Linked DNA regions of Homo sapiens: all the other regions are linked to region 2. The links come from fine-mapping of genetic effects on gene expression. A gene starts in region 2. Each other region holds a variant in brackets. All regions are shown on one strand. Distances are from middle to middle.

Region 1 (8,312 bases), 52 kb before region 2:
CATCTCTACTAAAAATACAAAAAAAAAAAAAAAAGCCAGGTGTGGCGGTGGGCACCTGTAGTCCCAGCTACTAGGGAGGCTGAGGCAGGACAATAGCTTGAACCTGAGAGGCGGAGGTTGCAGTGAGCCAAGATCGTGCCACTGCACTGCAGCCTGGGCAACAGAGCAAGACTCTGTCTCAAAAAATAATAATAATAATAAAAATAAACTTCTTGAAAGAAGAAATTGTCTTATTTCACACAGTACATAATCAGTACGAGTTGATATCGGTGCTGAATTTGGCCTCTACTGATTTCTGCCCTTTCCTCTCTATGCTTCTGTTATCTGAACTCCTACGTTTCACAGTCTATTTACTTTTGTCTCTAGTTTAGATACTAACCCAACTGGTCAGGAATAATGTCTGTACATACCAGTAATGAACTTTACAATGTGACTCAACCAGCTACATGAGTAAGTTTCCCCCTTGGGGGAGTTTGTGCAGTCTAACACGCAACAATAACTGGAAAGAATGAATGAAATTTCTAAGCAGAAAGAAATGAATGGCATTTCTAAGCAGAAACTACACAGAGACGCAATGGCCCAGATTCTTCCATTTCTCCAGCAAACATGAATTGAGTACCCACTGTGTGCCAAATTCTGAGCTAAAAGTGCTCATAAATTTTAACTGAACTTGTCACAGCTACCCAGGTAAACAGATAAAGGAAAACATTTAGAGATGTCTAAACTTACTTGGAAGGTTGTTAATACTTACAGTGTAACAATGAGGTTAAAATTTAGCAAGGCTTGAGACAAATAGAAGGTTTGCCTCCCACTGCTACCCTACAAAACTAGGACTTTGACCAAATTGACTGGTTTGCTATCTTGTGGGCACCTTGCTCTTCTGTCTCTACTCCCTAACTTTTCCTTTCTCTTTACCTGGAATGTCACCCACCCCCACCTCACTCCCACACATATCCACCTCTACTCTACATATCAAACCATACACATCCTGCAAGACTTACGTCTTCCCGCCTCAGGACTCTCACAATATTTCATCTCACTACATGTAGTATAATTGTGTGGGAATGCATCTTAGTTTCCCTACTAACGCAAAAAATCCTAGAATACAATAATCTCCCTTACATATCTTTGTATGCCTCAGAATGCATATTGAACCATTTAATACATTTTTTATTTACAGCAGGAATGCATGAATTGATTAATTAAATGTTGAGAGCTGTAGATGGCTTTTCTCAAGGTGCTTCAAGTGCAGAAGCCCAAGTGATTGACCCACACACTTACCTTTGTGTTCCTTCCAGAAAATCCTCAGGGAGGTGAGAGACCCATGTTCAGCTGTGTATGGCACCAAAGTCTATACATAGTTTCTGGGAGTCACTGTGGGCTGTGGGGAAGCACGTGGACTCTGGAGTCACACACACCAAGGTCTCTAGCCTAGCTCTGCCACTTACTGGTTGTGTGACCCCAGGGAACTTAATTTACAAATTTAAGCTTTAGTTTCCTCATCTGCAAAATGGAGCCTCCTCGCCTTTCTTCTTTTGCTACCGAACTGGGTTATGAGAATTAGATGCGTGCATGCAAAGCACCTGGTAGAGTGGCACACACCTGGCAGAAGGAAGTAAATTCTAGTCCCCGTTTTCACTTACCCTCATATACAACGGGGCACTTTTTTATTTGCCAACTATTTCTTTGAAGATAATAAAAGAGTCAGAAAATGATAGTTTTTAAAAGCACCCTGCAGTCCACATGGGAACCAACCACTACCTCTGGCCATGAGTTTACCCTTTGGGTTTCCATTTGTCATGGCCAAGGGCAGTGAGGGCTATGCCAGGGACCCTCAGTGTGTTTGGCCCTACCCAATCACCATCTCAGGTCTACCCCTTGTGCATTCCACCTTGCGGGGCTCAGTCCACCACTCAGAAGGATGCATTCTGCACACTCCTTGCCTGAAAGAACTCCTGAAAGGCACTGACCAGGCTCTGGAAGGCTATATTCTTTTCATTCTTTATAAAAGTTATGTGATTACCAAGCTCAATAATCAAATGTCCTTCATCGCTAAAAGATTATATGGCTTTGGTTTGGATGCTTTGGGAACAAGGAGGCAATACGCAATGGCTTGGTTTACTCATGTTACAGAAACTGTAGCAGTTATTTGGTAATGCTTTCAACAGTGCCTTCAGCTTGTGGGAAATCCCGAAGATGGCCAAAGACAACTCAACTGTTCGTTGCTTCCAGGGCCTGCTGATTTTTGGAAATGTGATTATTGGTGTAAGTAATGATTATTTTCCAGGAAATTCTGCACTTCCTGTAATCATAATTCTAGATGAATCAAAAGTAAGAGTTTAAAGGAAAATAATGCTGTGATTACTGGCTTCCTATATTTTTGCTTCATTTTAAGAAATGTGTTAGTAAATATGCTAGCTAGAATTTAACTGTATGTCAAAAGATCATGGTTGAAAAAGTAGATATTTTCCTCCCAACTTTAAAATATAAGTATCTAAAAGGAGTCATGTCAACCATAGTCAGTGTCTAAACACTCTGACTACGAACACACTTCACTATTTCTTTTCTATGTCACCTTGGTTTGATTTCCATGGGACTCTGCTGTTAAGGTTTTTTGGGACAGATGCTTGCATCTTGTTCTTCTCATACAGAGGCCAGTACCAGGGTGTAAGAATAATACAGAGGCCATACTGTGTGGGTCTGGTGGCATAGAAGAACATTTGTTTTGGAGTCCAGAGCTCTTGGCCCAGCTCTCCCTCTGACTCCCCATATGACTCTGGCCATCACCTTTCAAGGCTGAGATTCCTCATCTATAAAATGTGGGTGTTGGCAAAGATAAGCAGCAAGGTTCCTCTCAGCTGTCATTGATAAATATGACCAGGACCAGCTCAAATATTACAACCCAGAAATGTGGGTCATGACATGGGGGCAGGGGGAGATCATTCTCATACCAGAAAGCATTGTTTGAGTGATTCATGCCCCAAGGACATTGTGGATGGTCTGAAATTGTGTGGGTCTGTTACTAAATAGACAGAATAACATGTGAAGGGATGTATGCAACCAGTTAGTAGGATGGAAGTAGTTGTTTGATTTCCTGGCAATGGGGAGTTTAGATTAGTTGCATAAAGCCTGTGCAGGAAAGGGAGCCAGTCACTCTTACCTTCCCCACCCTCCACCCCCTTTCCCAAAGCTGCACTCCTGATGGAGCCCACCTTTCATTTGCCCCCAGTGTTGCGGCATTGCCCTGACTGCGGAGTGCATCTTCTTTGTATCTGACCAACACAGCCTCTACCCACTGCTTGAAGCCACCGACAACGATGACATCTATGGGGCTGCCTGGATCGGCATATTTGTGGGCATCTGCCTCTTCTGCCTGTCTGTTCTAGGCATTGTAGGCATCATGAAGTCCAGCAGGAAAATTCTTCTGGCGGTAAGACCTCAAAATTCTCTGGAGTTGTCTCCCTGAGCCAATTGTAATGGATTCTTTCTTCTTCACTGAGCAATGCTTTGGCTTTCAGTGGGGGAGCAGGAAGTACCAGATAAGGGGTGAGGAGGGGAAGACTTTCCCTGCAGTGAAATGGTCCACATGGAGGCAAAGATGCCCTCCACTATTGCAAGCCCAGAAGGCTCCAGTACAGAGAAGCCAAAGGGGAGACACCTGGGGGTGACCTAATGAGTATTTTCCATATTGTGCCTCTACAGCTGGTGTCTGCATACACCCAGTAGGTACAGCTAGGAGCTATATAGGCCAAAGGAGAGACACAGTGAGAATTCATTCATTAGATTTTTTTCTCTTGGCAATAACTTGTTTAAAACATTTTGATATTAATTAGGCATTAATATATTAGGATATAAAATATAAAATATGCATACATTTTTAAAAGAAAGTATAAGCTTTCAAAGATTTTTGAGCTCAAGGTTGATGATTCTGTATCATAGCCTATACTCCCCACATTATCATCCAATCTGCTTTTCAGGGACCCCAGAAAACCTTGATAAGCACCACTGTAGAGTGAGCCTTCAGCTCACACCTGCCTGTGGGGGCTTTAACTCTGTACATCAAGGAGAGGCTTCTGCCCCAAACCATAGACAGCAAGACCATGCCCTGCCTTTGCAGATGAAAGCAAATTTGCAGGCAGCAGAGCTGAGAAACCTGTTTCAGACGTGGACCCCTACTGTCTGCCCTAATACTTAGGGCAGCAGTTTCACACTATTATGGAACACGCCTC[C/G]AATCCCCCACCCCTGAAATAACCCTTTTATTCAAATGCTGCAGGACCTCAGTTCCCCCTTTATAGAATGAGTCCAGCAATGTAAGGTGCTTGTTAGTTTACTCTTCCTTTTAACTAACCACTGTCCTGGTTCCAATGGATTACAGAACATTTACATTCTCTGGTTCCTTAGTGTGCGTAAGTTCCAGGGCAAAAGTACCCACTTTTGGTGGGTGGGGAAAGGAATACAGGAAAAAGGGAGAGGAGACACAGGTGTTCCTAAAGACAAATTCACTTGCATCCCAGCCTCACTTTGGGCCAGCCATGTGCATGCCTGACAACCAGGAGAACTGAGCTGGGGAGGCAAAGGGGCTAAAGGAGGAAACACCTCACTGCATACCTCCTTTCTGGAGCGTCTTTACCAGGAGCCAGCAAAGCTCTTGGCAAGGAGCAAGGCAGCAGCTAACACAGGAAAAAAATGTTCTGGGGCCTCTGAAGGTGCTCCTGCTGTTGACTGTAGCCAGAGCTTTATTCTGGGCTGAGTAGTGAGGGCAACAGAGGGTCCTGCTCGGAGAGCCTCCCATACCCAAAGAGGAGGACAGTTTTCCCTGCCTACCCTGCTGACACTGACCACAGTGCCCCTTCTCCCAAGAGTGTGTGCAAGCCTGGGGAAGGCAAAGCTGGAACTCTTGCAAACAGTCCCCATCCCAGATTCAGAGGTCATTTGCTGTTCGGATATTTTCCAGCCAGAAATAGCATCACTGTCATGTGGAGGTATCATGTGCACACGCACCCATGTGCCCATGCTCACGCACACACACCACCACTACCACACACAGCAAATGCCATTTCACTCAACTGAACCAATGTACTTTGAGTGTGGGTGCGTGTGAAAGAACACCCACAAATGCTGTGCACTTGAAGCCTGCCTCTCCTCTGATGAGACTGGATGCTTGTTAGGAAGGACCCTAGATGTTCAACATTATCCAGTTCATCTTTTTCTGAACTCCGTGATTCTAAATTTTCAGCAAATTGTAAAGAAAATTTCTCCAAAATTCCAAAATTAAAGGGGATTTATGAGGCCCTATACTGTATGTGATACACTAAGACTCTCTTGCCACTCACTGAGCATGCACATGCATGTAAATGCACACATGTAAATGAGCATGTAAATGCTCACATGTGTGTGTGCACACATACACACCAGTTCATTCTCTTGTACTTGTTTTTCCCAGTTAAAATAGAAACTCAGGAAACTGGACTGAGGAAGGTCTGTATTCAATGGCTATTTGTTCTCTGGAGAAAAGGAGAGAATTGAGCTGACTAGCACCAAGCCTCAATCCAAGCCACTGGTCAATGAGGGTTTGTTGAATAACTACATGAGTGATTACATGATTATATGATAAATTTGCTGAAAAAACATAATTATTTGGGCAAGTCGCTCTTTGACGGGTAAATGTAATTCTTTTATCTCATTTATTTCCCTTCCAGTATTTCATTCTGATGTTTATAGTATATGCCTTTGAAGTGGCATCTTGTATCACAGCAGCAACACAACAAGACTTTGTGAGTACAACCTCAAAAAGCAAAATAATATGAATTATCATTATTATAACAACCAACATGTATTAACCCCTTACTATGTGCCCAGGCAATCCAATATGCACAGTAATAATACATCTATCATTTTACTTAATCCTCATAAATCTATGAAATAGGCATTATCACTCTGGTCATTTGAGAAAGGAAAAAAAATGAGACAGAAAGGTAAAATGACTTGTCTAAAGTGACATAGTTGGCAACTGAAAGAGCAAGAATTCTGAACCCAGATGGCCTGACTCCCAGGGCCCAAGTTTGTAATCCCCTGTGGGTTTCACCACTCTGCCATGGCCATGGGCCTTCCAATGGGAGGATCTCTGTTCTACCTCAGCTAAGACGTGCTCTCAATTCTACATCTTTCTTTCTCTCCCATTCTCTGTTTTCCTAGCCTAAGCCACCCTACAGTATGTGTTCCCCTGGCCTCATAGTGATTTCTTTTAAGATGAGAGTCTCTTCTCTGCATGGGGACTTATGCCAACCTCAGCCAGCTGTACTTGGTGCCTCTGAGTACAGTTTTGCTCCAGGAGAGAATGTTCAGTGTCCCCAGGAAAAGACAGAGAAAAATATTTTCCTCTCCTTGAAAATTAGCGTGCTATCTCTCCCTCTTGTGTTGCCTCTTCCTACTATAGTTCACACCCAACCTCTTCCTGAAGCAGATGCTAGAGAGGTACCAAAACAACAGCCCTCCAAACAATGATGACCAGTGGAAAAACAATGGAGTCACCAAAACCTGGGACAGGCTCATGCTCCAGGTAAGACCTGTGGTCTTGGGGAGATGCCATTTTTACTTACTGGTGGGAGTGGGTGTCATACACATGACTCAGTGGGACCCTATATTTTATTTCAAGCCATGATGATTAGCTTACATTTGTTGGAATGATTTTGTCAAGAAACTTAGGTTAATCATACACTCTCCCTCTTAGAACTCAGGTATCATTTACATTAAAAGAAAAATATTTTCTCTACCCCACAGTGAACTCGAGTGGTAATTACTGCCTGTTTCGCCTTTTGGGTACCTCTTCACAACTCCTGTGAGCTAGTCTTGCCAAGGACCAGGCCCTATATCTTGATTTGATCACCCAATTTTCTCCAACTGGCAATCATAGTTTATGTCCATGTTTATCTCCAGTGCCATCAAAAGTCCAAGTCTTCCAGAATATCCATCATCACCCCCACATTGCCCTCTGTATGCAAATTGTTATCCTCTACATAACTACCAATCTGACCTAGCTTTCTTACTGGCCCCTGCTCCTACTCCACACCCCACCACCAACTTTTTACAGTCTGTCATCAGCAAACTCCCTTATAGCCACCACTCCTTCTATGAACTCTTTACTATCTTTTTCTTGCTTCATTGGAAATTTGGCTATCTCCTGGGAGTGCTACCTGCCCTTCATTTTCCTCCCATATCCATGTACCATAGGACCTGGAAATTGGCTAGGTGTCCTTCTTGCTCCCCTTGGCTGCCATACTATTTGCTTCCTTGATCTACATCACCCCTTATCCTTCCTTGCCATTACTTACCAGCCTCCCTACCCTCAGTCGTTCTCCTGCCTTCATTAGGGATTTCAATATCTCACTTAACTATCTACCTCTTCAGTCATACTCCTGATATCCCACCTAGAAACTTCAGCAGCCACATGGATGACTCAGCAACATTTAGTCTCACAATTCCTTGTCCTACCCCATTCCAAAGATTTTGTCTTTCTCCCCACCTCCACCCTCTTCCATGACCATAGTCAGCATGCCATCACCAGTAACTGTGCCACTAAGAACATTCCATTCTCTGACCATTAATTTCTATCATTTCTTTCATTTATTCTAATATCTCAATTCTAATAATTTTATTCCATTAGGACCTCCAATTAATTGACCACTTTTTAACTTTTATCACCCCTTTCATGTTTTCTCTTTCCTCTTTGCCTAACCCATATTCAGGTCCAGCCCCATAGCCAGTCCTTCCCTACCCTTCTCTGTGGGTCACTCTTTCCTAACCAAGCCCACCGAGTAGAATATAGCTTTTTGCTCACTCTTCGTTTATACTCTAAGAGCTAAACATTGCTGAGAAAAGTCACACAACCATGATCATTTCAATTTAAACTTGTGACCACAGAGCTCAAATGGGCACACAATATTTCCTAGTATATTTTCCCAGAAAATTCACTTGTCACTATTTCACATGTTCTTCCTTCATGCCTGCCACACCTCTTCTCACCCTCCCTCTCAGTTGATGACCCGACCTCATATGTTTTTAAGAATATAGAAGAAATTAGACAAGAACCACCTCATCTTTCTACCACCAAATCTACATTGATATACACCTGTGCACTTTGCCTTCTCTCTTGTTATGTCACACAGGCTGTCCTTTGTCCAGCTCTTTTGATTCTGTTCTGCATTCCATCTCCTTTGCCCCAACAGTCTTCCCTGCTCTGATCTGCCTCATCAGTTTCTCCCTTTCAACAGCCTACATGGACACCTTAAATTGTCTATCTTATAAAAAGACTC
Region 2 (8,312 bases):
ACCAACCTGACACATAGCAGGTACTCAATTTAGTAACAAATGACGGACTAGGATATACTAGTTGAAATACACAAGGACACATCATAATTCCAGGCTACTGCTAAAAGGAATGAAACATTAAAAAAGAAGGTGGGAAATAAAGATTAATAATATGAGTACAAAATTCCACCTGAGAAGGATTTTAAAAATTAAAAAGGCTCACCCCGATACTAGCTCCCTTCAGTTCACTAATATCAACACTTTTCTAAGGGTAGGGTCCTCACCTTTAACAAATGGCACTTTTGGTCACACCCACTGCCTTCCGCTCCTCTGCCTCTAAAAGTGATACTTCTCCTTGGCTTGGGGAGGAAGTGTTGCGTGGCCTGCCTCTTCCTTCATGAAGCCACAAAGTGCCACTGCGTGAGTTCCGTGGCACATTGGAACACAGTGTACCCGCCTCTGGGCAAGAGCCGTGGAAATCCACACATGAAGCCAGGTGGTCCTGCAACACCCAAACAACCAAAGTTATTTTGTGTAGTATATGTTATGCAGCATAATAGAGAATTCACCAGAATTTCTGATGGGAGGTTCCAATAGAAGTTCATTGTGTACTTATATGTGACTTTCAGCTGTCCCTAAGAAACCAACAGTGGAGTCAGTAGGAGTTTACTTTCTGCAGTCATTAGGGGCACCTCACCGTAAACCTTAAAAAGGTTTAAAAAGCTCTGAGATCATGGGTATAACAGGGCTCTGAAGTCACAAAGAGCTGAGTTCAAATTCTGGTTATCAGATGCATGAATGGCTTTTGACAAGTAACCTAAATGTTTTGAGTCTGTTTGGCCATTTATTTAAAAAGCATTTCTCAACATCTGGTTCCAAGAGAGCCTTTATCAAATACATAAAGGAATGTGTTAAAACTGCAGATTCCTGGGCCCCACTCCAAAGCCAATGGGTCAGAACAGCAGCCTCTAGGACTCAGAAAAATGAAATTTTAACAAGCTCCCCAAATGATTCTTATCTGCATTAAAGTTTGAGAACCACTGATATAAGAGAATGGACCTGGAATGCAATCAATCTTTCAGATATGTTAGTTTTCCCTCTGGTAAGGAAAAGCAGTAAGAAGATATGTGAAAATGAGATTTTAAAAATGTATTTGAAAGGTTTTTGATTCCATCATTTAGAAATGTATTCTAAGAAAATAATCAGAGAGGTATACCATGATATTCAAACCAACATTGCTAAAATAACCAAAAATTGAAGAGTCTAAATGTTAACAATAGCGATCTGATTTAATTAATTATAATACATCCATATGATGGGACATATGCTTTCATTAAAATGTTTACAATAACTACACAGAAAAATGCTCATAACAGCTAAGTAGAAAAAAAGATATAACAATGTATATGAAATAAAGACTGGGTGTGATGGCTCATGCCTGTAATCCCAGCACTTTGGAAGGCCGAGGCGGGAGGATCACTTGAGGCCAGGAGTTCAAGACCAGTTTGGCCAACATGTTGAAACCCCTCCTCTACTAAAAGTACAAAAATTAGCTTGGCATGGTGGCGCATGCCTGTAGTCCCAGCTACTTGGGAGGCTGAGGAAGGAGGATCACCTGAACCCGGGAGGCGGAGGCTGCAGTGAGCTGAGATCATGCCACTGCACTCCAGCCTGGGCATCAGAGACCCTGTCTCTAAAAAAAAAAAAAAAAAAAAGTATATAAAATATAATACCAATTATGCAATACATGTGTGTGTGCATACCTTTTACATACAAAATGATAGTCACTGGTGGTCATCTCTTAATTACAGTATTAGGAGAAAACTTCTATTTCTTTTGTATCTTCTAATTTTTCTAAAATGGAGTTTTCATCAACAGAAACAATATTGTTTTCTGATAAAATGACTACATAGTTTTCCTTTAAAATATAGTAGTCCTTGGTTTCACTTTCTGCGGTTTCAGTTAACCACAAAAAAATACGGTAAGATATTTTGAGAAAGAGATGACATTCATATCTTTTATCACAGCATATTGTAACTGTTCTATTATTAGATATTATTCATCTCTTACTGTGCCTAACTTATAAGTTATACTTTAGTATAGATATGTATGCATATATAGAAAAAAACAGCGTATATAGGGTTTGGCACTATCCACGGTTTCAGGCATCCACTGTCAGTCTTGCAACATATCCCCCAAGAATAAGGAGGACGACTGTACATTAAAATTTAAAGATAACATCACAGACAGGAATTATAACTTTTAGTTACATAAGTTTGACAATTCATTCATATAACCTTTAAGAAAACCTGTTCTAAATAGGCCAAAAAGCCCCAATCTCAAAGAAAAACTTCAGAGGCTGTTAGTAATCTTCAGTGCCAGAGAACACTGTGGTCTGTGTTTGAAATGCCTATTCCCAGGCTCCAGCCCCAGAGATTTTTATTTCAAAGGCCTGAAGTGGAGTCAAGAAATTGATATTTTTGCCTGGGCCCATGGTACACATCTGTAATCCCAGCACTTTGGGAGGCAAATGGATCACTTGGGGTCAGGAGTTCCAGACCAGCCTGGACAACATGGTGAAACCCCATCACTACTAAAAATACAAAAATTAGCCGGGAGTAGTGGCCTGGGCCTGTAGTCCCAGCTACTCGGGAGGCTGAGGTAGGAGAATTGCTTGAACCTGAGAGGTGTAGGTTGCAGTGAGCCAAGATTGTGCCACTGCACTCCAGCCTGGGCCACAGAGCCAGATTCCATCTCAAAAAAAAAAAAAAAAATTATATTTTTATCGAGAACCTAGGTAACTCTGAGTCACACAGCCAGGTTTTAGAAACCACTGTTCACTGATGGCTTAAAACAAAGAATAGAAAACCATCACTGATTTGCTTTGGATGTTTCCACTGAATAAAAGATCTTCAAAGAGAAGGTTAGTTCCCAAAACATTTGCATGCATCTCTGGAAAAGGCAGGCATTACTATTAGCTCGGCTTAAAGTAGATACTAAATACTTATTATATTAAGTGGCATATAAACTACAACCACAGAGCTGATTTTATTGCCCTCTCTATCCACTTCCCCTTAGATTATGTAGTCAAACAGTTCAATCCAGGTCAGTACTTTTTCACAACGTATGTTTTCAATCTGATCAAAGCTATAGGTAGACGAAAGTTATTGCAATTTCATGGGGTTTACAATTTCCATAAAGAACAAACCTGCTCTAGAAGACAAAATTCCAAAAACTTCTGAACTATATCCAATCAAGCATTATCTCCTCTCCCAAGAGAGACCTTCCAGCACTCCCCGCCTGGGTCTCGGGAATAGCCCTCCCTTCTGAATCCCAGTTTCTCAATCCGGACCCTGAATCCTATTCATCCTGATCTCTCCTTGATTTTCTTGCATCTTAAAGGTGTTATTTTCCTTTCTTTAAAAATTTAAAAAAAAAAAAAAAAGCCACAACTCGCCTCCACGCTCAGATTACCATTTTCTTTTTCCTCCTTTTCATCACCAAACGGCTGAGGAGGTCTACCAGTACCCTCACCACCGCCACGTCCCCATCCCTCACCCACTCTGGAACACTTTGCAACAGTGTGCACACCCACCCACTGTTGATAACTACTCTCCTAAGGCTACCAACCCATAGGCCTCTCCTCGATGCAGAGTCCTTTGGACTTTGTCTGTTTTTTTTCAAACCAAGAATTAACAGCCCTTATCTAATGGAAGACAGAACATCAAGGGATACAGATCAACAAACACTGGATGGCTGTCTCCGAAGTCTTTTATAATCCAGGTGACCAACCCCTTTGGAGAAAGGTCAAAGGTCGCCGGCCCCTCGCAGGACTGGGGCTGGTGTCAGCTGATCAGTTTCCCCGTTGAAACGCTGGAGAAGGAGGGTTTCCAGGAAGAAGGGGCTTTTTCAGGTTGATGCACCCGGCGGAGAAGTGCTGGGGGCGACCCCGGAATCGTGACCTGGGGTATGAATGAGCCCTGGATTTTTTCCTACCCGGCAGCACCTCGTCTGGCTCCCCCGGCCCGCAGCAGAGGCGGCGCCGCGCGGAACGCCAGCACCTGAGCCGGTGCCTCCCGCCAGGCTCGGCCTCCGTAGGCCCCCGGCCCGGCCCACCGCTCCGGCTGAGGCGGGACTGCCCCACGGACGCCGCCACGTCATCCCCACGCCCGCCCCGCTACAGCCCTGGGACTGACCCCGGCCGTCGCCCGGCTACCCTCGCACGGCGCCCGTGTCCAGGGAACTGCATTTCCCGGGCGCCGGCGGAGCCAGCGTACTCACCCCGGAGGCGGCCGCGGCGAGCTAGCACTGCCCGCGGAGAGGGGAGAACGCGGAAAGCAGCTCGGGGACCGCCCCAGCCGCCCGGGAGGCGGCTCTTGAGTACGAGCTCCGCCTCCCGCCTTGGCCGGAGAGGCTGGTCCGCCCGGCTCTGCACGCGCCTGGCGCTCCACCCCCGCCAAATCGACCACACCGGGCGCTGGAAGGAGCACCGGGAGGGAAACGGAGGGTTGACGCCTCGGCCTCTGGGTGGCTTTAAAACCCTGTGCCAATAGTAGACTGGGTGCTGAGCGCTTCCCAAATTCCATCCCCTTAAATACTCACAAAGCAGTAGGAAAGAGATAGGGACCCTTCCATTTTACAGAGTGGGAAACTGAGACTTTAGAGAGGCTAATAAACTTAATCACCCTGCGAGATTTCAGCCCTCTCAACTGCAAAAATGATAATAATAATAATAATATTTTTCCCATGTTGCAGGTCTGAGAATATTAAATGATTTTTTTAAATCCGTATTTCTTCAAAGATATTATTACAGAAAGCAAAGACAATTATATTTACACTAAAGATTTGAGTGAAAAATTATGGTAGGCTCTGTTTAGGCAGTCAGGATAGCTAGATTCTCTAATGCAGTCTCCCACTGCACTCACGGGAAAGTAGTAGATTCTCCAAGAACCACACATCCACTCCACCCAAAAAGGAACAAACCATAGCTAGAGCCAGTGCTGGGCTCATTAAGCTTCATAGCAGGAAATCTGAGGCTATACTGAGGCCGCATAGGCCCAATGTAGGCCCTTGGAAGCTGGAAAAGAGGGCCACCTAGTGGCAGTTGAGGATAGGTCAGTGAAATAGGTCAACACTGCTCCTGAACAAGGTCCAGTGTGAAACTTATTTTTTTGTGTTCCCTTTGTAACATGCTGTAAGGGTGTATAACCACATTTAGTGAAAAAGGACATTACTGGATTTCATCCAGTGGCGTTATACAATCAGTTACTTATACCCACATAGTCCCCAGGTCTTGAGCATATGATGCCTGGAAGCATAATATATACCTTTTGCAAGAATCACTCAGCTTTTCCCCTCCCCCTCCCCCTCTCTGTCTCCCTCCCCATCTCCCTCCCCCCTTTGCACGGTCCTCGTCTCCCCTTTGCATGGTCTCCCTCTGATGCCGAGCCGAGGCTGGACTGTACTGCCGCCATCTCGGCTCACGGCAGCCTCCCTGCCTGATTCCCCTGCCTCAGCCTGCCGAGTGCCTGGGATTGCAGGCGCGCACCGCCACACCTGACTGGTTTTCGTATTTTTTGGTGGAGACGGGGTTTCGCCGAGTTGGCCGGGCTGGTCTCCAGCTCCTGACCGCGAGTGGTCTGCCAGCCTCGGCCTCCCGAGGTGCCGGGATTGCAGACGGAGTCTCGCTCACTCAGTGCTCAATGTTGCCCAGGCTGGAGTGCAGTGGCTTGATCTCGGATCGCTACAACCTCCACCTCCCAGCCGCCTGCCTTGGCCTCCCAAAGTGCCGAGATTGCAGCCTCTGCCCTGCTGCCACGCCGTATAGGAAGTGAGGAGCGTCTCTGCCTGGCCGCCCATCATCTGGGATGTGGGGAGCCCCTCTGCCCAGCCGCCCAGTCTGGAAAGTGAGGAGCGCTTCTTCCCGGCCGCCACCCCGTCTAGGAAGTGAGGAGCGTCTCTGCCTGGCCGCCCATCATCTGGGATGTGGGGAGCGCCTCTGCCCCACCACCCCGTCTGAGAGGTGAAGAATGCCTCTGCCCGGCGGCGACCCGTCTAGGAACTGAGGAGTGTCTCTGCCCCGCCGCCACCCCGTCTGGGAGGTGAGGAGCGTCTCTGACTGGCCGCCCTGTCTGAGAAGTGAGGAGCCCCTCCGCCGGGCAGCTGCCTGGTCCGGGAGGTGGGGGGCAGCCGCCCAGCCAGCCGCCCCGCCCGGGAGGTGGGGGGGCAGCCCCCGCCTGGCCAGCCGCCCCGCCCGGCAAGTGGGGGGCAGCCCCCGCCCGGCCAGCCGCCCCGTCCGGGAGGTGGGGGGCGCCTCTGCCCAGCCGCCGCCCCGTCTGGGAGGTGGGGGCCCCTCTGCCCGGCCGCCGCCCCGTCTGGGAGGTGGGGGGCCCCTCTGCCCGGCAGCCCCGTCTGGGAAGTGAGGAGCCCCTCTGCCCGGCCACCACCCTGTCTGGGAGGTGTACCCAACAGCTCATTGAGAACGGGCCATGATGACGATGGCGGTTTTGTCCAATAGAAAAGGGGGAAATGTGGGGAAAAGAAAGAGAGATCAGATTGTTATTGTGTCTGTGTAGAAAGAAGTTGACATAGGAGACTCCATTTTGTTCTGTACTAGGAAAAATTCTTCTGCCTTGGGATGCTGTTAATCTATAACCTTACCCCCAACCCCCTGCTCTCTGAAACATGTGCTGTGTCCACTAAGGGTTAAATGGATTAAGGGCAGTGCAAGATGTGCTTTGTTAAACAGATGCTTGAAGGCAGCGTGCTCGCTAAGAGTCATCACCACTCCCTAATCTCAACTACCCAGGGACACAAACACTGCGGAAGGCGGCAGGGCCCTCTGCCTAGGAAAACCAGAGACCTTTGTTCACATGTTTATCTGCTGACCTTCCCTCCACTATTGTCCTATGACCCTGCCAAATCCCCCTCTCCGAGAAACACCCAAGAATGATCAATAAATACTAAAAAAAAAATAAATTTAAAAAAAAAAAAGAGAATGTAGGCCAACAATAAGCCACAGGATAACATCTCTGTCTGCCCAAATCACATTATGCTGAGGAAGTTTAATAATAAAGGAGAATAATAAAGGAGCCAAGCAAGTTAATCTAAAAAAAAAAAAAAAAAAGAATCACTCAGCTTTTCTATATTTGGTAGCTGGTAGGTTATTAATTGGAGAAGTTGGGTTATTGCTTTCAGTAAGTGTAGGAAAGCAAGTAGCAGTGATATCTACAAAATTAAAGATAGCTTTCCAATCTGCTTTTGAGGTTTTAGGGTGGCTTTCATTTCACAGAGAGGCATTGGCATTAATAAAATTGTTTCCTAGGGGTTTTTTTTTTGGCATCAGTCCAGAAACCCAACAGTTGCTCTAGTTTTTCTTGTTAGAGCATGAGCCTTAGCTAAAGCCATCTATAAATTATGGTCCCATGGATTTCCCAGCAGGAAATATGGAAAAAATAGAAAAAAAGATAAGATAGTCATGATAGCAGAGAAGTCTTGATCCATGATCTTGAGAAAGCTGTCCATGTCTAGGATGCCATCTGCTTCTGGGGAGAAACTTCCCTACCTTAAGATCTCCAACAGGTGTATAATTCCAAGAGTTTGAAGGGGCTCTTTTGAGTTACAAGGTATGGACCAAAACTCGAGGCCCTGAAGTTTTACTGTGGGTGGTGAGAGAAGTACATGATATAATCTCTTCTAATGGGATACAAGAGCAGTTTTTCTCAGATGGGATGTTATTTCCAGAAGACTCAATCTCTGAGTTCTAGATTGTGAAAGGTTGGTTGTACTCAGTGTATCACAAAAGGCTTTTACCTGGGGAAAACACACTTTCATATAATGGATTAAAGCTTTGCAGTATTTAGTTACAGCAAAGCTTATAAGAGCAGGAGATACATGAGAGTCTATTATTAAGGATATAGGTCTTCCCAGAACTAGTTTTTTGTCTACCCCATGATGAGTAATGGAGTACAGAGTTTTTAATAATGGAAGATTTAAGGACTCAGGAAGAACCAGGTGGCCATATGGGGCCTCCATGAGTCCACACTTAGCAATAAATTTACATCCTTTTAAATATGTTTTGGTTACCTAATGTTAAATAACAAGTTAATGGGTGCAGCACACCAACATGGCACATGTATGCATATGTAACTAACCTGCACGTTGTGCACATGTACCCTAAAACAAAGTATAGTAAAAAATTAAAAATAAAAAAAATATGTTTTGGTTTGTCTATCTGTTCTAAGATGGCAGGTAGTAGGCAGTGCTAGTGTGCCTCTCCCACTTGGAAGGACAGAACAGTGTGTAGCAATTAACACTGTGAACTTTTATTCCAA
Region 3 (8,312 bases), 34 kb before region 2:
AGGAATGCTTACCCCGAAATGGTACATACTAGAAACAGGAAGGCATTGGAGGATAAGTGGCCTTGATGGCAAAAAGAGTTTAGCACAGACGAGAAGGGCAACCCCAGAAGACAAGGAATCTAGGATGAGAACTGGGATCAGAACGTGGGGAACACAGAAGTTGCTTCTGAGTGGCAGGTAATAAGTGATGCTTTGGAGCAGGATGGATTTGGTGTCACATCTGGCCCAGTGATGTTGCTTATAACGAGATTACTCTTAAAAATCTGATATCTAGGCCAGGCGTGGTGGCTCACGCCTGTAATCCCAGCACTTTGGGAGGCCGAGACGGGCAAATCACGAGGTCAGGAGATCGAGACCATCCTGGCTAACACGGTGAAACCCCGTCTCTACTAAAAATACAAAAATTAGCCGGGCATGGTGGCGCGTGCCTGTAGTCCCAGCTACACAGGAGGCTGAGGCAGGAGAATGGCGTGAACCCGGGAGGCGGAGCTTGCAGTGAGTCAAGATCGCGCCACTGCACTCCAGCCTGGGCGACAGAGCGAAACTCCGTCTCAAAAAAAAAAAAAAAAAAAAAAAAAAAATCTGATATCTAACAAAGACATGGAACCAACCCAAATGCCCATCAGCAATAGACTGGATAAAGAAAATGTGGTCCATGCACACTATGGAATACTATGCAGCCATAAAAAGGAATGAGATCATGTTTTTGCAGGGACATGGATGAAGCTGGAAGTCATCATCCTCAGCAAACTAACACAGGAACAGGAAGCCAGACACTGCATGTTCCCTCTCATAAGTGGGAGTTGAACAATGAGAACACATGGACAAAGGGAGGGGAACAACACACACCAGGGCCTGCTGAGGGGTGAGGAGTGAGGAGAAGGGAACTTAGAGGATGGGTCAACAGGTGCAGCAAACCACCATGGCACACGTACATCTGTGTAACAAACCTGCACGTTCTGTACATGTATCCTGTTTTTGTTTTGGTTTTTTAGAAGAAATAAAAACAAACAAACAAAAAAATCTGTTGTCACCTAAGCCTGAATGAACCTAACATCCACTTTTTCCAAGAATGAGATGTTTCTAAAACAATCCCTTGTTTATTTTTCCTTGTTTTTTTCTATTCCAGTTTTGGGTTCTCCTGGGTACCATGTTCTACTGGAGCAGAATTGAATATTAAGCATAAAGTGTTGCCACCATACCTCCTTCCCCGAGTGACTCTGGATTTGGTGCTGGAACCAGCTCTCTCCTAATATTCCACGTTTGTGCCCCACACTAACGTGTGTGTCTTACATTGCCAAGTCAGATGGTACGGACTTCCTTTAGGATCTCAGGCTTCTGCAGTTCTCATGACTCCTACTTTTCATCCTAGTCTAGCATTCTGCAACATTTATATAGACTGTTGAAAGGAGAATTTGAAAAATGCATAATAACTACTTCCATCCCTGCTTATTTTTAATTTGGGAAAATAAATACATTCGAAGGAACCTGTGTTATCACAGTAACCCAGAGCTGTATTTGGCTAGCAATCTGCCTGTATCTCTCACTATTATCTAAAAGAAACCTTCCAATGCTTCTGTTGATCTCAGTATTGTCAGGGGAACAGAGAAGTTGGGAAAAGATTACTGAAATATACCTTTTGCATTTCTTTCTAGAGTAGCTCCCATATATGGAGATGGGTGATTCTCTTGATGCCACCTTCAGATCCTTTTATTCTCCAGAATAATTCTTAACAGTGGTTCAAATTTCCTTTCATACCTTGAAGTATGTGTTTAGTAGCCTCAATTCTCCATTAATTAAAAGTGTGGGCTGGGCGTGGGGGCTCATGCCTGTAATCCCAGCACTTTGGGAGGCCGAGGTGGGCAGATCACCTGAGGTCAGGAGTTCAAGACCAGCCTGGCCAACATGGTGAAACCCCGTCTCTACAAAAATACAAAAATTAGCCAGGCGTGATGGCAGGTGCCTGTAATCCTAGCTACTTGGCAGGCTAACGCAGGAGAATCACTTGACCGGGAGACAGAGGTTGCAGTGAGCTGAGATCGTACCTATTGCACTCCATCCTGGATGAAAGAGCCAGACTCTGTCTCAAAACAAACAAAAAAGCGTGGGGACTTCTGGGGACAGACAAGGTGCCTGTTATATATTTACTCAGTCTTTGCCCTGAATGGTCTCAGCTTGAGACCATTTCAAACTGGAGAGAAGCAAGCCAGCCAATAGAATGGGGTGATTTACAGGGATTTCTGTTTACTGTCAAAATATTTCTCATCTGCACTATGTTTCCATTTGTGGTCCTGAAGGAAATTCTTATAACTCAACATTTGTCTGGTCTTATAAGTAAAGACAGCTTTAAAATCTGTTCACTTTCATTTTTACCAATGTCATATATGAGTCTAACAAAATGGGTTTTCCAACAGAAAAGCCTAAAGCATGGGAATTAAAGTGGAGGAGGTAGAAACTGCAGACACAGGGTGTGGCTTCCTGCTGGATGCTGGCAAACGCTGCCTTACAGTTAAACGGTGGGAACTTCTACGCTCACTTTTACTTTTTGCTCCTGCTACACTTACCCCAGAAGCAGTGATGAGACTAATGCTCTTCAAATCATTTACCTCATGCAATTGAAAGCAGTGGAAACCTCGCCCATGCTAACTGCAGAACTGTGTGTCCTTCATGAAGAAAACACTTTGGCGTCCTGCTCCCAGCTGACTCAGACGCAGGCAGCACCCCCATCCCATGCCCCCACCGGGTACCTGTGAGTGAGGCTGAGCGTGGGGGTAGGGGAAAGACAAGGAGGATTGGAGGGGACTTGCCTTGGTTGTAAAGCTGGCGCAGGAGCCCGATCCCTGATTCCCAGGAGAGGGAACCAAATGTCCATGTCCTGACAGCACAGCCAGTTCACCTCTCCTTGGCCTGCCTTGTCTCTCCTGAATGAAGATCATGGGATATCGAGATAAATGACACCTGTGCTTGGCTGAGAAGGTTCTCTCTGTGGTCCTTTAGAAGACAGGAGGACAGGGAAGGAGCTTCCTCTGGGCAAAGCTTTGAAACAGCCGTGCTCTCATTTTCCTCCGCACACTCTCTCCTGTGTGTTCTGGTGCCTTTTGCCTCCACCACTCACTGGGCTTTCCAGTGCCCTCACCTCCCGACTGCCTGAGCAATTCCTGCCCCAAACCCACTCCTACTTCCCTTCCAGGGCTTCATGCTCCAAAATTCTCTCTACATACAAAATTCCCCGCCTCCC[TCCC/T]CCCCCCCCTTTTTTTTTTTTTTTTTGAGACAGAGTTTAACTCTTGTTGCCCAGGCTGGAGTGCAATGGCACGATCTCGGCTCACTGCAACCTCCACCTCCCAGGTTCAAGCGATTCTCCTGCCTCAGCCACCCAAGTAGCAAAATTCCCTTCTTATGATTAGATCTCGGCTAGGTTAGGGGAAGGCCTTTTTGGAAACCAATTCATACTAAGGAGTGGGTGACAACTCAACTCCACTCTCTCAATCTCTATGACGTTTTCTTGATAACTGAGGTTGATCTCTAGTTGGTGGAATCCAGCACAGCAGTGGGAGCATGAAAGAGCCATTGCGGGACAAGATGGCCCACCTACTATTCCTTAAATCTTATCCCCTGACTTCCTTACCAAGCAATAACTAAAAGAGAAGGGGCCGTCAGTGAGCCACTGCCCCCTGCCCCCTCTCCAGCTAGTTTCCTTCCTGCAGCCTCAGCCTCCTTTATAGAAGGTGCAAAGTCCACTATAAATGGGGGCAGGCTCTGCTCCTTCCAAAACCAAATAAGGTCCTAAACACAGGCACCCACTATGTCCTGGGGCTCCAACACTTGAGGAGGACACACCTTTCAGCTAAGACAGAAACGAGGTCTGAGGATCACCCTGCAGAGAGTCTGGCCATTCAGGACTCCTGTGCTTCCCTCTACAGGGCTCTCCTGTTTTAACCTCAGGACAGTTTCTATTCTGCCCAGTTCCTGCTCCCATGTCCCTCCACCTTCCCTGGAGGCCCAGCCTTGCCCCTCTTCCTTCTGGCTCCAGGGACTGGAAGTGGCCCCAAGCCAATGCTCAGGCAGGCCCAGGCTCAGCCCCAGCCCCAGCCCCAGCAAACCAGGGAGGCAAAGGGGAACCAGGCGGCTTGGCTCTAGGGATCTGGCAGCTTGCTGAGTGTGAGACAGGCCCAGACACAACTATCTTGTGAAACTTCCCTCTTCAACACCTGCTTATCAGGTGGGCAAAGAATAATTACTAACACCAAAAATGTGTCAGGCTAATTTGGGTAAGTTTTACTTGATTGCAACGCCAGGCGGGTCATCATGCTCTCTTGGCTGGCCATTTCCATCCCTAGATTGCTCCACAGGCTCCTGGCAGGCAAACAGTCTGTCATTTAATTTTTAAAAGCCCATTGCTCCTACTTGTCAGCCTTGTAGCTTTTCTTTCTCTACATCAGCTGGAATAAACAGGAACTGCTTCTATTTTAAACAGAAGATCAGATATTTTCTGGCTACCCATAAAAGGAATACTAGTCATGTGAACTTGAAAATCTAACCTCCTCTCAATCTCACACCCCCACCCCAACCAATCTGACAACCTGTGTTGTGGTTGAGGAATTAGAAACTAAGCTGGTTTCTCATTTCTATTGATGGAACAATTTCCTTTCTCCTTCTGGGTCTAGTATTTCCTCTAGTGTCTCTTCCAGATCCTTCTCAGCCTGTATAAGTGAGACTGAATCAAAGAAGAACCCCAAAGAAGGGTAGCTATAGACTACTGAGTTTGCTATTGTATTATAAGGCTCAAGTGGCCAGATCCCGTAAAGGGATCCAGAAACATTGTAGAGAAAGGCAGCCTTGCCGAGAAACAGAGATCCCATACACTTCTCCAACCAACCCTTCCCCCAGCACACGCCCCCACTCCACATTGTTAAGACACAAATAGTCAAATCCTGGAGTTTGGAGAAATGGTACTGTCATGCCCTACTTTCTAGTGGTTTCTACCCTGAGTTCCTCTTGAAAAAGAACTACAGAGCAACAGATGCTGGTGAGGCACTCACAACTAGGCTCAACTATTCTCCTGTTAGACATAAACAATCTCACAGAATACCAGCCTCATAGGGTCACTCTGAGACCATGACAAAACGAGGCAAGCCAAGGCCACTGCATAATTTTGTCTATGCATAGACAAAAACAAGGTCACTGTGCCACCCACAAAAAACCAAACACCTGCTTTCTTGGCTAAAATTAGTGACTGCTATGTCTTCCCAATTACAGCTTTATTCTCTTGCTAGTCTCCCTCCCTACAAATAAAACTTATTGAAATAAACAACCATGGACTTGCCCCTGCTTTCTGATAATATCCAACAGAGCAAACCCTTTCTTGGACCCTCCCCAAATGACCCAACCAAAGCCCAAATGCTGTAATAATTCTAACTTCCTTCTACTGAGTTGCTTCATGGATCCCCCATGGTGTGTTCTCACTCACTGCAACGATTGCAACTAGTCACAATCCCAATTTTTTTCAAAATAGAGCTCTTGAATTTATTCCTCCAACTGAAATTTTGTACCCTTTGATCAACTCTAACCCAATTAATTTATCTGCAATGTGTTCCTGGGGGGTTTTGGCTGAAGAGCATTGACACTCTCCAAGTTAGTCTTCCAATCCTTATTTCCTCTAGGAAATAGGATGTATTTATTCCTTCCTGGTGTAGGTGTATTTATTTATCCATCACCATGAAGTGGTTAAGAACATGAACTCTGGAGTCAAAGTACTTGGCTCCAAATCCCAGCTCTTTGACAAGTCACTTAGCTTCTTGGAGCCTGCTTCAGAAAAACTGGTCTCTCCTCACACAGGACTGGGAGGATTCAGTAAGATACGTACAGTGTGCATCGGTCTATAAGAGATGCCAATCAGGAGGTTATATCAAGGAAACTGATACAGAGCAAGCACTTAGTTTATTATTATGTCCCACCCTTCACCAACCTCTGCTCCAAGCCCCCACATCTCTCTCTCATTCTCTCTCTCTCTCTCTCACACACACACACACACACACACACACTCACACTCCACACATGGGCACACAAGGTTTGATAATTTTATTTAAATCTTAACAATTATCAATGGAACAATGGAGGCTTTACCTGTACAGGTGTACTTCCTAGGGGTGGAACCTCTAAACCACTCCCTTGTGTATACTTTTAGAATGATCAGGCCCTCTCAGCAGGTATAAGATGGTTATGCATATACAAAAAAATCAACGAAGGTAGAAATAGCATAAAATATCGAAGGCACTAAGGATAGAGGGTTTTTTTTTTAAGTTATAGAATGTGATTGGTGAAAAAGAACTTATGAAATGTACCTGAATATGCTTCATCTTGCAGAACATGTTAATGGTTTTTGGTAGGGACTGCATATATGAATAGGATTGGGGAAAGTGAATTTCAAGTCTGGGAGAAAATGTCTTTTATCTCACTCAAGTCCATTCACAGAGCATTTTGGGGCTCCCAGGAAATCTATCCATTGGGGCTTGAGTGGAAGTGATGGGGGTAAGGGCAGAAAAATTACAGATGGAGTTGGGGACAAAGTTCTGAGAGCAGCTGAGAACAGGAATGCACTTTCCAGGGTCCAGACAATACTAACTCTCTGTAGGAATTAAGACAATGACACACATTCAGGAAAATTACCACAAAGAAGTAGAGAAGCCAAGAAGAAGGCAATATGATGTAATGGTCTTGAAAGTCAAAGGGCCCGAGTTTTGCTCAGAATCTGCCATTTGCTGCCTGTGAGACTCCTGGCAAGGCACCCTCCTGGCTGAGACCTCTACTTACTCAACTTACTCAACTGCCCTCTTACCTCAAGAGTCAGAAGCATCGGCCAGGCACATTGGCTCACGCCTGTAGTCCCAGTACTTTGGGAGGAAGAGGCAGGCGGATCACCTGAGGTCAGGAATTCAAGACCAGCCTGGCCAATATGGTGAAACTCCGTCTCTACTAAAAACACAAAAATTAGCCGGGCATGGTGAGGCATGCTTGTAGTCCCAGCTACTTGGGAGGCTGAGGCAGGAGAATCACTTGAACCCAGGAGGTGGAGGTTGCAGTGAGCCGAGATTGTGCCACTGCACTCCAGCCTGGGTGACAGAGTGAGACTCTGTCTCAAAAAAAAAAAAAAAAAAAAAAAGAGTAAGCGGCACCAATAAAGTGTGTGTAAAGATATCACAAACTGCAAAGCACTATAGAAATGAATGCCAGTATAGGTGAGGAAAAAAAATCAATGAAAACTTCAAAGTAACACACTCTTTGTGTTAGGTAGTTGTGATATCCAAATAGCCTGCCCCCACATAATCCTTAGCAATTATAGTAGGCATAGCTGTCTCTACAATATTTAAAACAGTAGGCCTCTTTGGCAACTATGAGAAAATGCACAGGGCAGGAACTGGAGGAAGCCAGTTCCTTTGAAGCCAAACCCCCTGCCCAGTGGGGAGGCAAGAGCAGGGAGGGAGGCAGCAGTGAGTGGGCAGGCGGCCTCATGCCCCGTGTCACCAGCCTTTGATGCCCCAGTGCAGGGAAAGTGTCACAATGGCAGTGTCAAGGTCTTAAAAAACTATCTTCCACCTCAAGAAGTTCCATAACAAGTCATTTAAGGGACTTTTAGATTATCTTGGTTGAAAGAATTACCTGAAGAAAAATAAAAGGCATCATTCAGTGGTTTCCAACAGTTAAAAAATTGCAGATGTCAAAAAAACACAAGAGAGTTTCTGCATGGTACTAGCTATACTCCATTTCCATTGAGTAAGAAATTGAGTTCTCAAATACAGATCTTCAAATTCCTTGCACACACCATTCTCTTCCATTGCCCTTCCCAACCATGATGAGGGAGGGACCTACAACCTCTCAATTACCGTCTGTTAATATGGTCATAGTCAAGCAAATTGGGAGAGAGCTCTAGACAAAGTTTCTACAGAAAAGAGAAGGGACAGTGAGGGAGAGATTTACTCAACAGACTACAGCCTCATTAGCAAATCTCCCAAGAATGAAGCTCCTTTACAAAGTTTGAGCAAAAAACATGAAAACCCTGAGTATTTCTCTGCTAAGTAAAGAAAAAAACATGGCCGGGCACTGTGGCTCACACCTATAATTCCAGCGCTTTGGGCACCCCAGGCAGGCAGATTGATTTTGAGCTCTAGAGTTCAAGACCAGCCTGGGCAACATGGTGAGACCCCATCTCTACTAAAAATACAAAAAAATAGCTGGGAATGGTGGTGTGCGCCTGTGGTCCCAGCTATTCAGGAGGCTGACGGGGGGAGGATTGTCACTTGAGCCTGGGGGGTGGA

The links. PIP is the estimated chance that this variant, and not a neighbour inherited with it, causes the effect.
Region 1: its variant is fine-mapped to the expression of B4GALT4 in whole blood (INTERVAL, PIP above 0.99).
Region 3: its variant is fine-mapped to the expression of B4GALT4 in whole blood (INTERVAL, PIP above 0.99).

The regions. Positions count from the first base shown.
Region 1 is chr3:119,184,546-119,192,857 of GRCh38, forward strand. It overlaps UPK1B (uroplakin 1B), which reads left to right. Exons shown (of 8, transcript NM_006952.4): 2 at 2,169-2,265; 3 at 3,230-3,430; 4 at 5,700-5,774; 5 at 6,437-6,559. The coding sequence starts at 2,197. Among named protein-coding and RNA genes, the nearest start is that of UPK1B, 15 kb to the left of the region's middle. The variant C/G (reference allele first, on the strand shown) is at 4,230.
Region 2 is chr3:119,236,590-119,244,901 of GRCh38, forward strand. It overlaps B4GALT4 (beta-1,4-galactosyltransferase 4), which reads right to left and starts at 4,289. Exons shown (of 8, transcript NM_003778.4): 1 at 4,261-4,289; 2 at 264-481. The region is part of intron 3 of B4GALT4-AS1 (B4GALT4 antisense RNA 1); the gene reads left to right. RefSeq lists silencers at 3,976-4,455, 5,106-5,155.
Region 3 is chr3:119,202,788-119,211,099 of GRCh38, forward strand. It overlaps UPK1B (uroplakin 1B), which reads left to right. Exons shown (of 8, transcript NM_006952.4): 8 at 1,130-2,356. The coding sequence ends at 1,180. Among named protein-coding and RNA genes, the nearest start is that of B4GALT4-AS1, 20 kb to the right of the region's middle. RefSeq lists enhancers at 3,560-4,086, 4,087-4,611. The variant TCCC/T (reference allele first, on the strand shown) is at 3,239.